Homo sapiens: one gene and its partners. The protein of the gene in region 2 purifies or fractionates together with the protein of the main gene of each other region. This does not show direct contact. Each region holds a gene or a part of one and is shown on either strand. Other genes may lie near its edges. The genes, in order: PPP4R3B, CT45A5 and TRIM26.

Region 1 (3,654 bases), on a different chromosome or scaffold from region 2:
AGGAGTTTGAGGCTGTAGGGTGCTATGATTGTGCCTGTGCGTAGCCATTGCACCCCAGCCTGGGCAACATATCTTAATAAAAAACAAGAGTCATACTAGGCACAGTGGCTCACACTTGTAATCTCAACACTTTGGGAGGCTGAGGCAGGAGGATCACTTTAGTCCAGGAGTTCAAGACCAGCCTGGGCAACATACTGAGACTCTCACTGCAAAAAATATAAATTAGCTGGGCATGGTGACACACACCTGTAGTCCCAGCTGCTTGGGAATCTGAGGTGGGAGAATTGCTTGAGCCCAGGAGGTCAGTGCTTCAGTGAGCTGTTACTGTGCTACCGCACTCCAGCCTGGGCGATAGAGGAAGACTCTCTCAAAAAAAAAAAAAAAACCAGAGTCATAAGAATGTGTACCTATTTAACACAATTGTGTGTTAATTGGGTTTAAGAAAATCCTCATTGCAGTTTTATTTGGAGGCAGGATGTAACAGATGAAACAGATAAAGAATGATAATAAGATAGCTTATAACAGTGTTTTACCACAGTCTTCACTGAAAGCCCGTGAAAGCATTTCACACATGAGGCAACAAAGGTACAGAAAGGGTAAGATTCTTGACTGAGATTATACAGCAGGTATGTGCCAACACAAAATATAAAAAGTAAACTTGCATTTTCCACAGACTTAGAGCAGTAGAAAATTAAGGAAGAGGTTAATATAAGCTGGAATCATTAAGAAAAACTTCATTCTTGGTGGTGGTAGTGGAAGGAACTGTGATAGGAAAGGAAATACACTTGCTACAAAAGGTATTAAGCCTATTTGTAGCAGTGGTTTCTCCCCCTCCTACCACCAATCCCAAATATGATAATACACAGGTTCAGAAGGGGACATTACAGGTTCTTGAGTAGGGGCCTAAAGTGATACTGTGTTTAAAGAAATGAGTGTGGCAATGTCATGAATAATAAATTGGGGAGGAGGGATAGGGTGGAGCAGAAGATCTTTGAGTAGCAAGACCTTTTGCAATAATTCAGATACAAAAAATGAAAGTCTATTCCACCACGGTAAATGGACTTGAAGGAACAGAGCTCCAGTATATTTTCCAGAAAGTGCTGGAAAATTTAGTAAATGATTAAATATTAAAGAGAAGGAATCAAAGGTCACTGATAGTGTTTTTGAGTCTGGCCAGGAAGGTGATGGTTCTTTCCAGAAAGTGGGAAGTTAAGCAGGTTTACATTAATCTTTTGGTTTGAGGCTTATTAAAAAAAATTTTTTTTAGTGTGTAATATATTAGCCCAGTTAAAAATTCAAAAGGTATTTATTGAAGTCTCTTTCCCACGCCAGATTCTGTCCGTACAGTTTCCCTTGCTAGAGGCCACTGACATCACCAGTTTCTTATATATCTTGCTGGAGGTATGCATATGTAAGCAAATATGCATACAATTGTATGTATTTTTTCCCTTTTATTGGTATAACTGGTAGCATACTGTATACTGTTTTGTGCTTTGCTTTTTTTTTCTTTTCCATCCGGGCTTTGAAGTTACATACAGTAAAATAAATGGAAAGAGTTTTTTTGTTTTTTTTGTTTTTTTTTTTTTTGAGACACAGTCTTGCTTTGTTGCCGAGGCTGGAGTGCAGTGGCGTGATCATGGCTTACTGCAGCTTTAACTTCCTGCGCTCAGGCTCCCACCTCAGCCTCCTGAGTAGCTGGGACTGTAGGTGTGCACACCATGCCTGGCTAATTTTTTGTAGATATGGGATTATGCCATGTTGCTCAGGCTGGTCTTGAACTCCTGAGCTCAAGCAGCCCACCTATCTTGGCCTTCCAAAGTGCTGGGAATACAGACATGAGTCGTCACACCCAGCCCATGAAAAGGTCTTAAAATGAACATCTGGGAATAGAGATAGGGTGAGACTTTCCGGCAGGAGATTCTAATTTAAGAATCATAAAAGGCCTAGCATGCCAGTAGTAGTCCCAGCTTTTCGGGGCTGAGGCAGGAGGATCACTTGAGACCAGGAGTTTGAGGCTATAGTTCGTGATGATCACACCTGTGAATAGCCAACTGCACTCCAGCCTTTTAAAAAAAAAAATCAGATGAATTATGAATTTTTAGCTACAAGGTAACCTCCTTTGAGGTAATAGCTATAAATTGAGAAAAGAACAGAGCTCAAGACTGAGTCTTGTTGATCTGACCACATATATTCATTCATCCAGAAATACCTCATCGAGTGCTGCTTCTGGCTGGTCACTATCTTTTCGTTTGGAATTTTTTTGGAGGCAGGGCGGTGGTTTTGAGATGAGACTGTCTCCCAGCCAAAAGCACGGTGGCATGATTAAGTCTCACGCAGCCTTGACCTCCTAGGTGCGATCCTCCCACCTCAGCCTTCTGAGTAGCTGGGACTGCAGGCGCATACCACCATACCTGGCTAATTTTTTTAATGTTTAGTAGAGATGAGGTCTCACTATGATGCCCAGGCTGGTTTCAAACTCCTGCGCTTAACAATTCTCCCTCTTTGGGCTCCAAAAGTGCTGGGATTACAGGCATGAGCCTCCATATCCAGCCAAGTTGGGATTTTTAAAGTAAGCTTTTGAAGAGTTTATGCAAAGTGATGACATGATCCAAAATACTTAATAGTATCAATCTGTGGAATTGAAGAGAAGCAATAAGTGGGAAACTCATTGGGAGATTGCTGCATAGTCCAAGCAAAAGATAATGTTGGATTGGATTGAGGTGATAGAGATGGACAGAGATGGATGGATTTTGTGATCTTTATTGAAGGTAGAATTGACAGGGCATGTGATGGATCAGTTATTGGTAATCAGGAAGAAGAAAGATCAGTAACCGTTGACTGTTTCCCAGGGTCAGTCCTCAGCATTGGAAAAGAACTCTAAATATAAACCCCATTTAGTTTCTGGTATTTTGACAAGATCAGAGAAAAGAATTTAAAGTTAAGAATGAGGGGCTGGGTGCAGTGGCTCCCACCTGTAATCCCAGCACTTTGGGAGCCCAAGGCTGGCAGATCACCTGAGGTCGGGGGTTCAAGACCAGCCTGGCCAACATGGTGAAACCCTGTCTCTACTAAAAATACAAAAATTAATCCGGTGTGGTGGCACACGCCTGTAATCCCAGCTACTCAGGAGGCTGAGGCAGGAGAATCACTTGAACCCAGAGGTGGAGGTTGCAGTGAGCCAAGATTGCACCACTGCATTCCAACCTGGGCAACAGAGTGAGACTCTGTATCAAAAAAAAGAAGAGCAAAAGAAAGTGATGATGAAAAGGTGCTCAGTTACCTTAATTCAGATTTCGTTGTTTACCTGGACCTTCTCTTTCAATGTTTACCTGGACCAAACATTGATTGTAGCCAAAATGGAAAAGGCATTGGATGGCTGGATAAAGGGTTTTGGATTTCATTCTGTTAGTAATATCCATTGACCTGACTGTAGATAGTACTATCTATAGATCTAGTCACCAGAAGGACCAAGGCATGGTTAGAAGATTGCGGCTTTGAACCCCATCCGCCATCCTCCAGAAGGGGAGAGGGGCTGAGGGTTTATTAATCACCAGTCGCCAGTGATTTACTTAATTATACCTGTTTAATGAAGCCTCCATAAAAGCCCATTAGGACTGGGTTTGGAGAGCTCCCAGATAACTAAGTGGAAGTTCC
Region 2 (3,654 bases):
ACTCAAACAAATTTACAAGAAAAAAACAAACAACCCCATCAACAAGCGGGCGAAGGATATGAACAGATACTTCTCAAAAGAAGACATTTATGCAGCCAACAGACACATGAAAACATGCTCATCATCACTGGCCATCAGATAAATGCAAATCAAAACCACAATGAGATACCATCTCACACCAGTTAGAATGGCAATCATTAAAAAGTCAGGAAACAACAGGTGCTGGAGAGGATGTGGACAAATAGGAACACTTTTACACTGTTGGTGGGACTGTAAACTAGTTCAACCATTGTGGAAGTCAGTGTGGCGATTCCTCAGGGATCTAGAACTAGAAATACCATTTGACCCAGCCATCCCATTACTGAGTATATACCCAAAGGATTATAAAACATGGTGCTATAAAGACACATGCACACGTATGTTTATTGTGGCACTATTCACAATAGCAAAGACTTGGAACCAACCCAAATGTCCAACAATGATAGACTGGATTAAGAAAACGTGGCACATATACACCATGGAATACTATGCAGCCATGAAAAATGATGAGTTCATGTCCTTTGTAGGGACATGGATGAAGCTGGAAACCATCATTCTCAGCAAACTATCGCAAGGACAAAAAACCAAACACCGCATGTTCTCCCTCATAGGTGGGAACTGAACAATGAGAACACATGGACACAGGAAGGGGAACATCACACACTGGGTCCTGTTGTGGGGTGTGGGGAGGGGGGAGGGATAGCATTAGGAGATATACCTAATGTTAAATGATGAGTTAATGGGTGCAGCACACAAAAATGGCACATGTATACATATGTAACAAACCTGCACGTTGTGCACATGTACCCTAAACCTTAAAGTATAATAAAAAAAAGTACCTGGCACAATTAATATTTGTTGAATAATTGAATGAATTAATTTTTTTAAAAAAAGCATAGAATGGGCTGGGTGCAGTGGCTCATGCCTGTAATCCTAGAACCTTGGGAGGCTGAGATGGGCAGATCACTTGAGGCCAGGTTTCGAGACCAGCCTGGACAACATGGCAAAACCCCATCTCCACTAAAAATACAAAAATTGCAGCGTGATGGCACCTGTGGTGCACCTGTAATCCCAGCTACTTCGAAGGCTGAAGCACAAGGATCGCTTGAACTGGGGTGAGGTCGAGGTGGCAGTGACTTGTGATCGTGTCACCGCACTCTAGCCTGGGCAACAGAGCAAGATTCTGTCTTTAAAAAAAATAAAAAGCATAGAACGTTCAAGTCGTATCTGGAAACAACAGCCTTACAGGGACTGCTACTGCAGCTCCAAATTATTGTATCAGACCAATCCTATCTAGGAACTACCTTTATTATATATATTGGATATACCCCCCCACACACGCATACATATATATATATGGGGGTGTATATATAATATGTGTAATGTGTATTATATGTATAATGGGAGATTAGAAAGTGTGTGTGTGCATGTATATATACCCCCTACCAACACACACACACACACACACACACACACACACACACACACACATTAAAATCTCCCATTAGTTCTGCCTTTTCGTTGAAGGCTGATGATACAGATTTCAACATTGAGATCGGGTTCCCACCACACGAGGGGCTAAGGAAGAGTATGTGTGATATGTCTAGAGAGCTTCTTAGTCCTCCTGTGTTTTTCGATTAGAGTTAATGGAAAATCACAGCAACCCCATCCAGGCAGGATATCTAATGGTTCAGACTCTTCCGTAATGAAGGTTTGAGTCATCCTGCCAGGCCAAGCATCATGACCAACTGACATGCTATCTCAGGGCAAAGGGAATGCGAAACGGGTAGCGAAAGAAGGTAGTTATAAACGCCAGCTACATCAGTGTGAGCTGCTGCAGAAACCACGACTGTAATAGTATTTACCTAATGGGTTAATAATATCTACCAGCACAGGTGGGAATACAAAATAACCAAAACACAAGTTATCCTTTCAAATAAAACGCTTTGGGAAAAAGAACATCTTTTACTAACAGAAATTTCTTAGCCTCTGGAAGGCCAGTTGATTCGGTAACATATGCCAGGAGACTTCAGCAATATCCTGCTCCATTGTAGAAAACAGCAATCTGATCCTTTTCTCTCCTCAATCATTAACGAGATTATGCATTTGGGGTGTGATAATCCTCCAGGGACAAGTATTCTCAAATCATACGTTTCAGTTTCTTCTTAAGGTGCTTAACAAAGTCTCGTCTCATACATCTGAAGAGAAAGAGACATGTCATTAACCAAAAGATAGCCAAAGAACCTATGCTGTAGGAAGCGCTGTGACAGATAGAAAGATGAAGTAACAGTCAGCATGGAAATAGAAATGTATCTGCATGGTAAGAGGCAGTCTAGCCGGCATAACAAATGCTGGCAAGGGTGTGGAGAAAAGGGAACCTTCATACACTGTTGGTGAGAATATAAATTACTACAACAACTAACTATGAAGAACAGTTTGGAGGTTCCTCAAACAACTAAAAATGGAGCTATCATATGATCCAGCAATCCCACTGCTGGGTATATACCCAAGAGAAAGGAAGTCAGTGTACCGAACAGATATCTGCACTCCCATGTTTGTTGCAGCACCATCCACAGTAGCCAAGATTTGGAAGCAACCTAAGTGTCCACTAACACATGAATGGGTAAAGAAAATATGGTACATATACACCACAGAGTACTGTTTAGCCATAAAAAAAAGAATGAGATTCAGTCATTTGCAACAACACGGATAGAACCGAAGGTCCTTATGTTAAGTGAAATAAGCCAGGCACAGAAAGACAAACTTCACATGTTCTCACTTATTTTTGGGAGTAAAAGTGTAAAACAACTGAACTAATGGAGATAGAGAGTAGAATGACAGTTACCAGAGGCTACAAAGGTTAGTGGGGGTGGAGGGTGTGGGAAGTGGGGATGATTAATACGTAGAAGTATGGAATAAATAAGATGTCGTATTTCATAGCCAAACAGGGTGACTATAGTCGGTAATAATTTAATTGCACATTTAAAAATAATGAAGAGTATAATTGTATTCTCTGTAACGCAAAGGATAAAAGCTTGAGGTGATAGAAACCCCACTTACCTTGATGTGATTATTACACATTGTTGTCTGTATCACAATATCTCATATAGCCCAGAAATATATGCATCTGCTATGTGCCTACACAAATTTTTTAAAAAGAGGTAGTCTAGCAAATACAAAGAGTGTCAATTGAGGGACAATGCGCACCTCAGACTATGGTGAAAATGGAAGTCTCCATAGTCTTCGAAGAATGAGTTACACTCAGATAACATTAGCCTAAGTAACTGTGGAGACAGCCATAACTGTGAGTGAGGACCAGGGTTTGAGAAACGCAAGGCAGGGGCTGTTCCCCAACGCTCACCCCCAGTGCTCTATTGAGCCCAAGTGCTTAAAGAAATTGGACAGTTCCTATTTCTACCCACCTTGCTGCTTCCTTGATGATGGATTCAAAAAATCGCTTCCTGACTGCAGTAGGTCCTTGCACTCCTTCAAGCATTTCGAAGATTTTTTCATATTCTGAAGATGTTGAAAAAAAAAAAACTTCAGTATTATCAAATATAAAGAAGAATAGAAGTGAATCTACACCTCAGCAATCATGCTTCAGAGGCTGAAATG
Region 3 (3,654 bases), on a different chromosome or scaffold from region 2:
GCACCATGTCTAAAATTATTTTCTTAATGGTATTTACTGAGGTTATGTATGAGAATGCCTATACTTCTTATTTATTTATTAATATATTTATTTATTTTTGAGATGGAGTTTTTCTCTTGTTGCCCAGGCTGGAGTGCAATGGCGCAATCTGGCTCACTACAACCTTCGCTTGCCAGGTTCAAGCGATTCTCCTGCCTCAGCCTCCCTAGTAGCTGGGATTACAGGTGCCCACCACCACATCCGGCTAATTTTTTGTAGTTTTAGTAGAGACGGGGTTTCACCAGGTTGGCCAGGCTGGTCTCAAACTCCTGACCTCAGGTGATCCACCTGCCTTGGCTTCCCAAAGTGCTGGGATTACAGGTGTGAGCCACCGCGCCCGGCTGAGAATACCTGTATTTCTAGGCAATGGATGCTGTAGTATTTAGAGCTCCATGTCTCCCACCTAATTTGAAATGGTTCCTTTCTTTTTTTTTTTTTTGAGACAGGGTCTTACTCTGTCCCCCGAGTGCAGTGGAACTATCTTGGCTCACTGCAAAGCAAAATAAAAAGCTAGAAAAGTTTTCTGGGGAGGGAGCTACAGTTTTCTATCACATTCTTAAAGAGGTCTGTAGTAACCATCAAAAATGGTTAAATCACTGATACAGAGATCATGGTGCTTGACACCTTGTAGAAGCTCAATACACATTTACTGAACAAGTGAATGGATTCAGGGGAATTGCAGACAATGTTAGTTGTATAGAACCATTTGTTTTTGAGAGTCTGCCATAACCAGATAAATGAAACACAGTACCACTTCTATGACCAATCCCTTCCCTTGCTTATACAGACTCCTTCTGAGGAAACTGAGGCTCAGCAGGGTTAAGCAACTTGCCCAAGAGCACATGGCTAGGAAGCAGTGTCTGGTGCCAAGGCCTCTGCTCAATCCACTACACTCTCTTCCCTACCCAGGCACACTGTAAAATGGGGTCTAATACCAGCTCCTTTGTTAGGAAGCTCAGATGAGGTCATCTACATGGAAGGGCTTTGTAAGCGGAGTAATGCTGACAAAAGAAAGGGGGCATATATTCTGCTGATACTGACCAAAAGCACCCTAGCCTTAGCTATGACAAACTTTCACATATGGGGTGAGCAATAAAGTGTCCCTGTTGGACAGTAGTTTTCCTTCTTAGTGATAGAGGATCTCAAGATTTCAGAATTAGGAGAAATGAGGTTGAGTATGAGAGATGTGAGCAGACCAGAATAACCGCTCCCCTTCCCCATACACAATTCTGTCAGGTCCAATGCAAAATTCACCCTCTCCAAAAACTCTTCCCCAACTTACCGCACCCTGCTATGGTTCTGCCCTTTTATGCCGTCAGTATATTCTCTGTGATCTCAACAGGTTTCCACAATAAGAGGTAAAACCATTACCCTTCTCTCCATTCCTGACTCCTGGGCAGACAGAAACCAAAATCAGAGCCAAAAAAAAAAAACCTCAGAGATGACCCACTCCACCCCCACTCCCTTTACTCAGATGAGAATTCTGAACCTGAAGAAGTCACTTCATGAACTCCCTTGCACCAGAGGTCACACATCCCTGCTGGGGGTGAGGGGGTATTTTTCTGTCTCTTCAATAAACCAGAAGCGGCCGGGCGCGGTGGCTTCTGCCTGTAATCCTAGCACTCTGGGAGGCAGAGGCGGGTGGATCACCTGAGATCGGGAGTTTGAGACCAGCCTGACCAACAAGGAGAAACCCCATCTCTACTAACAATACAAAATTAGCCAGGTGTGGTGGCGCATGCCTATAATCCCAGCTACTGGGCAGGCTGAGGCAGGAGAATCGCTTGAACCCAGGAGGCGGAGGTTGCAGTGAGCTGAGATCACGCCAATTGCACTCCAGCCTGGGCAACAAGAGCAAAACTCCATCTCAAAAAATAAAAATGAAAAAATAAACCAGAAGCTAGCTGCAATTCTATAGAACCAGGAAGATGCAACAAACAAGCCCTGCAATGTCCTGGTACCCTCCTCACAGGCAGAACTGCAGACACTCCCTACCTTTCTCTAAGAGGTTCCCTTTTCCCTGAAATCCACCCCTCCCCTATAAGTCTCTGGATCTCATAAATACCTAATCTGCATATGTCAACAGACTGGTCAAGGTGACACCATGTAATTTCAAGATGTGGATGCATGCACGATTATTGGCTCCAAGAATAATCACTATGAGCTACAAAAACTAGCTGAAAGCCGGGCACGGGGGCTTGTGCCTGTAATTCCAGCACTGTGGGAGGCTAAGGCAGGAGGACTGCCTGAGCCCAGGAGTTTGAGACCAGCCTGGGTAATATAGTGAGACATTGTCTCCAAAAAAAGAAATTAGCTGAATTAGCTGGGTGCGATGGCACATGCCTATAGTTCCAGCTACTTAGGAAGTTGAGGCAGGAGGATCTCCCGAGCCCGGGAAGTTGAGGCTGCAGACAGCCATGACTGCGCCACTGCACTCCAGCCTGGGTGAAACTCTGGCCTGCCTCCGGCTCCTAGATGCCACCCAGAGAGGTGCCCTGGTAGACAGTGAATCCCAAATGTGGACTCTGGGGCCCAAGAAAGTAAATGGAGAGGCCTGGGTTTTCATCCTGGCCTCCAGGGTACCAGTTCAGGCCTCTCTTGAGTATCCCAAGCTGCTTCTCAAGCATATGTCTGGACCTCCAAACAAGAGCAAAGCACCTGTAATCCCAAAGCACTTAGCCTAGAGCTCCATTCCCTGTGGGTACTCCATTTAAGGGCTCCTGGGTCCCAGATTAATCCCCATATTTTAATCTGAGATAAGCAAACTCTCCATGGGGTAAACTTCCGTGAGACACCTCTAACAAACCTGGAGAGGCCAGAATTCGGGGCAAAAAGCAAGTGATCTGGATGTGCATACTAGGAGTGACTGCACCCCTACTGGCCAGGCCAAAGGCCTGGATCCCAGGCTGTCCCAGGAGATCCCAGTGACTGTGGATGATGCGTTCTTGTGGTCACACTTGGCTTACTTTCCCCACGGAGCCGAGCATCAGTGGTGCTCTGAAGCACAGTGCAGGCCACAAAAACTACCAGGGCTCTGAACGCTAGAAATCCCCACAGGGCTCAAAGAGGGGCAGGAGGTAGCAGCCAGCTGGGAGGTGGATGAGACAAGGCGTTAAATTGCCCTGGTCTTGTGGCTGACCCACAGGGGAAAATTGAGGGTTCTTCATATTTGTGCCAGAATATCTGTCTAATGTTGAATCATGAACCAAGCTCTCTTGTCTAAAATATTCCTAAGTGTCACTTGGTGCTTTGCACCAAATATAGGAAGGAATCCTTTATCATCTTGTGGAATGGTTCAAACCTTGACTACACATCAGATTTGTAGTCTTCAAACTGGTGAGTCTTCAAAACATACCTAGACCAACTGACTTAGGATCTCCAGAGGTGGCCCAGGCTCTGGTATTAAAAAACAAACTTCCCAGGAGATTCTAAAGTCTATCCAGGACTGTGAATCACTAGAACCCCTTATTTACAGAGGAGGACAGTGAGTGCCAGAGCCTCGGACTCATTTGCCCAGCAGCAGAGCTGGCTGGCAGCAAGGCCAGCACTAGCACGAGGTGGGGTGAGGTGCACCTCCCAGCTCTGGGCTCCTTCCATTCCACCATACACTGCACT

What was found.
Region 1: the proteins of CT45A5 (region 2) and PPP4R3B purify together in Homo sapiens (affinity purification with mass spectrometry, with the first as the bait; one large-scale study listed by BioGRID). This does not show direct contact.
Region 3: the proteins of CT45A5 (region 2) and TRIM26 purify together in Homo sapiens (affinity purification with mass spectrometry, with the first as the bait; one large-scale study listed by BioGRID). This does not show direct contact.

What each region holds. Positions count from the first base shown.
Region 1 is NC_000002.12:55,607,601-55,611,254, reverse strand, and holds part of PPP4R3B (serine/threonine-protein phosphatase 4 regulatory subunit 3B), read left to right. Parts: intron 1-3,654. UniProt on the Homo sapiens protein: Regulatory subunit of serine/threonine-protein phosphatase 4 (PP4). May regulate the activity of PPP4C at centrosomal microtubule organizing centers.
Region 2 is NC_000023.11:135,775,457-135,779,110, forward strand, and holds the end of CT45A5 (cancer/testis antigen family 45 member A5), read right to left. Parts: intron 3,556-3,654; coding exon 3,462-3,555; intron 2,238-3,461; coding exon 2,180-2,237; 3' UTR 396-2,179; downstream 1-395.
Region 3 is NC_000006.12:30,203,335-30,206,988, forward strand, and holds part of TRIM26 (tripartite motif-containing protein 26), read right to left. Parts: intron 1,432-3,654; 5' UTR 1,322-1,431; intron 1-1,321.